Linked DNA regions of Homo sapiens: region 2 is linked to region 1. Evidence: fine-mapped expression QTL. A gene starts in region 1. The other region holds a variant in brackets. All regions are shown on one strand. Distances are from middle to middle. Region 1 holds the start of RBBP9 (RB binding protein 9, serine hydrolase). Region 2 overlaps SEC23B (SEC23 homolog B, COPII component).

Region 1 (2,921 bases):
GAGTGAACCAATGTTTTGTTTTTGACTGATTATGAAGCAATGCATGTACCATTAAAGTTTCTTACCTACTTCGGGCCTTCATCTTTTATCTATCAAAGTCTAAGTTTATCCATGTATAAGGCTGGCTGCAAACTCCTTCACAAATAAAAGTATACCCCATAAGTGCACATAACAGACCCCTTTTCCACTTCTATTGTTTGTAGAGGCATAAGGAAGACAAAAAATATTGAAAGATAAGAGTTTCATGGTAGTAGAAGTCTTAATCTGTGAACTTGGGAAAAGCTGTTCACATCAAGGATGCCATTTTCTTCTTGGGAGAAATTTCCCAGGGTAGCTTTACCTCAAAAGTTCCAATGGGTGCACTGTTCCAAAAGTGTGGAGGGACCGTTCTCATTTGCGAGACCATGAACCCAAAGCCCAAGGTCCTGAAGTTTTGTTGTAGTGTGGATGACAAGGACAGTCTTCTCCAATGTTTCCAGAAAATTCAAACCATAAAAAGCTTTCTTTACCGGGGGAAAATACACTGTAGCATAATAATCTACTGTTATAACATCAGCCCTCTTGCATGGGAAAGCTTTTATACAACCAGAATGACAAATTGGAATTCAAATAACAATTGAATGAAATCCCCTTACAAAATGTTTAAATGGCCCACCCGGTGACCAAATGTACATGAAGCTTTGTTTGTCTTCCCAGGAATATGGGACTAAGCATTGGTTATAAACTATTTTAAACAATTTCAGTATCAGCTGGTTTAATATGAAAATCTGACGAAGTATTTTCTTGGTATTTAATTAAATTTTTGCTTGTTTTACTTGGGTTAGTAGCTTTATGCAAGGAAATTTCATTCAAAGCAATGAAAAACAACAACCAGGGCTGATACTGACTACTAAAAACTGTTTTAAACTCAGAAGGAAAAATAATATGGATTTCAGGCGTTCCCAGGTTATAAATGGGTTTTCTGCATGTTTGAAACCAAAAACAAACTTTCCTATAGAAATATCAGTAAATCTAGCAAAGAAATAACACACCCCAACCGTGTCATAGCCTGTCTTAAATAAGGGAAAAACATGAGAGCACTAGTAAGAGGCAAGTAAAGGGTGCTTTGCTTTACAATTGATGGAAGCTCGCAGGCTTTGTTCTTGGCTGCCCCACGCAGCCAGCGGAAGGCAGGCCAAGGAGGAAAGAGCCCGGCCTCCCAGGTCCCCGCAACTACAACTCCCAGGATGCCGCGGCGCAGGCTCCCTGCGGGAGCAGGCTGGGCTCAGCTCCGCTGGACCCGCGCTGGGGAACTCTGGCCTCGCTGCACTCATGGCTTCTCCTAGCAAGGCAGTGATTGTTCCCGGGAACGGAGGCGGGGATGTGACCACCCACGGCTGGTATGGCTGGGTGAAAAAGGAGCTGGAGAAGGTAAGCGCCCAACGCCGCTGCTCCGTGAAGTCAGCCTGGAGGGAGGGACGGCGGGAGAGGACTGAGGGCTGAAGTTTGAATAGGCGTCTAATCCCCTCTAGCAAAGCCCTGTGTGTTTTCCTGCCTCTCCCCCGCTGCCTTCTCTTAAAGTCTGAGCTAGTGGTCGAATTTTGACTGGTAAAACTGCCTGGAAGACTTCTCTGAGGGCTCAGCCTTTAGAGTTAAAGGAACCCCTTTGAACTACCGAGGCTGAGCCCCTGAGCCCCGCCCCCCGTATCTGCTGCTGGTTCAGATTTGGGACTTCCCAGATAATTTTACATGTTCACTGCTTCCCGCTTCAGCTTTTAAAAAATTAAATATGCTATACTTAATATATACAAAGGATATACGTAACATGCGTCTACATTATGAGGCATAATGTAATGAATTACCAAACTAAAACCTGGGACATTGCCTATACATCATCTTCCAAACGACCCTTATGTCTACCCATCTCAGTCCCGTGCCATCCTGAATTTTTTCATCTGCTTCTCTTTTTAAAATTGAAGTACTTTTCAACCTATGAATATACCTTTTAAACAACAGACTGTTCTATTTGGCTTCTTGGTGAGCTTTATAAAAGTGGCATCTTACTGTAGGCTGACCTGTGCCGTTTGATTTTTATTTTTTAACCCTCTTCTGTAACCAGGCGGTAAGTCGGCTCCCTGGGTTGCTGTCCTCTAGAGCGGGTCTCCAGAATAGATTGCAGCGCTGTGGCTGAAAACCCTGGTCAGAGTTACAACCCCAAAGGTCAGGGCTGGAGCTTCTGAGAGTATGCTGTCTCCAAATTTCTGTATCACGTTCCTGTGCCACGTTTTACCTACTCCCTGGAACACAGTCTATTTGGCTCCAGGTCAGTCTGTCTAGAACACATTTGTTCATGCCTCTCTATAGATGCAGGCCTGTAGAGGCAAATATGGGTGTACAAATGCAGATATAGGTCTCTCTATAGAGATCAGCAGAGCTGCCTAGATACAGAACTACAGATGGAGTTCATGCGAAAAGATGGTCACTTAACCTACTTCATTTCATAACACAAGTTAATACTGAATTGGTAACGATCATATCAGGTGCCTCATTTCTTATTAGCAAAGTATTAGTTGTAATTAAGCTCTTTATTATAGCTTTTTCTCCCCCCTCATATCATAGATACCTGGTTTCCAGTGTTTGGCTAAAAACATGCCCGACCCAAGTAAGTTTTAAACTTGTTTTTAAATAGCCTCATCTTGTTGGGTTTTGATATTACCATTTTTGTGGTAGAGAACAAGAATATCATAGTGGAGGAACCAAAGATGCCTATATACCTAAGAAAGAATAAGGCAAGCAGCTTGGGGAGGAGGGTGTGAACCAAAAGCCATAGAAAATTCTTTTTTTTTTTTTTTTTTCAATTCTGTGAATTTGTCATTTTTATTTATTTATTTATTTATTTATTTATTTATTTATTTATTGATCATTCTTGGGTGTTTCTCGCA
Region 2 (2,921 bases), 40 kb before region 1:
TAGTTGATAAAGCAGCAGCAAAGTTTAAGAGAATTGATTCCATTTTTTAAAGAAGTTCTACTGTGGGTAAAAAGCTATCAAACAACACTGCATGCTACAGAGAAATCTTTCCTGGAAGGAAGAGTCGACTGATGCAGCAAATTTCATTGTTGCCTTATTTCAAGAAATTCCGGCCAGGCATGGTGGCTCACGCCTGTAATCCCAGCACTTTGGAAGGCAGAGACGTGCGGATCACGAGGTCAGGAGATCGAGACCATCCTGGCTAACAGGGTGAAACCCCGTCTCTACTAAAAATACAAAAAAAAAATTAGCTGGGCGTGGTGGCGGGTGCCTGTAGTCCCAGCTACTCGGGAGGCTGAGGCAGGAGAATGGCGTGAACCCAGGAGGCGAAGCTTGCAGTGAGCCAAGATCATGCCACTGCACTCCAGCCTGGGGTACAGAGCGAGACCCCGTCTCAAAAAAAAAAAAAAAAAAGAAATTCCCAGGTGGGGCGTGGTAGCTCACACCTGTAATTCCAACACTTTGGGAGCTGAGGCAGGCAGATCACTTGAGGTCAGTTCAAGACCAGCCTGGCCATTGTGGCAAAACCTTGTCTCTGCTAAAAATACAAAAACTAGCCAGACATGGTGGCTGGCACCTGTAAGCCTAGCTACTCGGGAGGCTGGGGTGGGAGAATGGCTTGAACCTGTGAGGTGGAGGTTGCAGTGAGCCAAGACCGTGCCTGGGTGATAGATCGTGCCTGGGTGATAGAACAAGACTTTGTCTTAATTAAAAAAAAAACAAAAAGAGAAGAAACTGCCACAGCCACTCAGCCTTCAGCAACTACTAACCTGATCAGTCAGCAGCCAACAACATCAATGTAAGACCTTCCACCAGCAAAAGAGTATGACTCACTAAAGGATCAGATGAGCATTAACATTTTTGAGCAATATAGTTGACCCTTGAGCAACACAGGTTTTTTTATTTATTTATTTATTTTTTATTATTATTATACTTTAAGTTTTAGGGTACATGTGCACAATGTGCAGGTTAGTTACATATGTATACATGTGCCATGCTGGTGTGCTGTACCCATTAACTCATCATTTAGCATTAGTTATATCTCCTAATGTTATTCCTCCCCCCTTCCCCCACCCCACAACAGTCCCCAGAGTGTGATGTTCCCCTTCCTGTGTCCATGTGTTCTCAATGTCCAATTCCCACCTATGAGTGAGAACATGCGGTGTTTTTTTGTCCTTGCGATAGTTTACTGAGAATGATGATTTCCAATTTCATCCATGTCCCTACAAAGGACATGAACTCATC[G/A]TTTTTTATGGCTGCATAGTATTCCATGGTGTATATGTGCCACATTTTCTTAATCCAGTCTATCATTGTTGGACATTTGGGTTGGTTCCAAGTCTTTACTATTGTGAATAGAGCCACAATAAACATACGTGTGCATGTGTCTTTATAGCAGCATGATTTATAGTCCTTTGGGTATATACCCAGTAATGGGATGGCTGGGTCAAATGGTATTTCTAGTTCTAGATCCCTGAGGAATCGCCACACTGACTTCCACAAGGATTGAACTAGTTTACAGTCCACCAACAGTGTAAAAGTGTTCCTATTTCTCCACATCCTCTCCAGCACCTGTTGTTTCCTGACTTTTTAATGATGAGTAACACAGGTTTGAACTGTACAGGTCCACTTATATGTGGATTTTCTTCTGCCTCTGCCACCCAAGACTGCAAGACCAAACCCTCCTCTTCCTCCTCCTCCTCAGCCTACTGAACATGAAGATGAGAGTATGAAGACTTTGTGATGTTCATTTCCACTTAACAAATAGTAAATACACTTTCCTTCCCTTATGATTTTCTTAATAACATTCTCTTTTCTCTAGCTTACTTTATTGTAAGAATACAGGACATAATATATATTACTTACAAAATATGTGTTAATCAACTGTTATCGGTCAGGTTCCCAGTCAACAGTGGACTACTAGTAGTTAAGTTTTGGGGGAGTTAAAGTTATATGTGGATTTTTTTTTTTTTTTGAGATGGAGTCTCGCTCTGTTGCCCAGGCTGGAGTGCAGTGGCACGATCTTGGCTCACTGCAAGCTCTGCCTCCTGGGTTCACGCCATTCTCCTGCCTCAGCCTCCCAAGTAGCTGGGACTACAGGCACCCACCAACACACCTGGCTAAATTTTTGTATTTTTAGTAGAGACAGGGTTTCACCATATTAGCCAGGATGGTCTCGATCTCCTGACCTCATGATCCGCCCGCCTCGGCCTCCCAAAGTGCTGGGATTACAGGCGTGAGCCACAGCACCCGGCCGTTATATGTGGATTTTTAACTATGCAGTGTCAGCACCCCAACACTACTCAAGGGTCAACTGTAAAGTATTTTTTTAATCCAAGAATGAACAATGTTTTCAAAGACATAATGCTATTTAACACTTAACATACTATAGTGCAAACATAACTTTTATATGCAATAGGAAACCAAAATATTCATGTGACTTGCTTTATTGCAATATTCACTTTATTGTGGTAGTCTGGAACTGAACCCACAGTATTTCCAAGGTATGCCAGTAGAGTAAAATGTTAATTACAGAATCAAGTTGATGGGTTCACCTAGGTAGTACGTGTTCACCGTACAATTCTTTCAATTTTTCTGTATGTTTGGAATTTTTCATAATAAAATATTAGGGAAAGAACCGATGCACTAAAAAATTCACCAACATTATGATGACTGGTAAAATCTATTACACTTCTAATGACCTTATCAGTTCAACAATAAAAGGACAAAAGTAATTTGTTGCCTGACTCCGACTAAACCCTTGAAGGAATAAATAAGAAAAGGTCATGCCAGACTATCATCAGGCCTAATACAATACCCAAGGAATATTGGTTTGTGAAGAAAGTAACCAGAGACCACTGGTT

The links.
Region 2: its variant is fine-mapped to the expression of RBBP9 in nasal epithelium (TOPMed, PIP above 0.99).

The regions. Positions count from the first base shown.
Region 1 is chr20:18,495,558-18,498,478 of GRCh38, reverse strand. RBBP9 (RB binding protein 9, serine hydrolase) reads left to right here and starts at 1,254. Exons shown (of 5, transcript NM_006606.3): 1 at 1,254-1,410; 2 at 2,599-2,641. The coding sequence starts at 1,312. RefSeq lists enhancers at 1,092-1,151, 1,252-1,301, 905-1,469, 1,322-1,481, 1,652-1,701.
Region 2 is chr20:18,535,803-18,538,723 of GRCh38, reverse strand. All of the region lies in intron 12 of SEC23B (SEC23 homolog B, COPII component), which reads right to left. Among named protein-coding and RNA genes, the nearest start is that of SEC23B, 29 kb to the right of the region's middle. The variant G/A (reference allele first, on the strand shown) is at 1,306.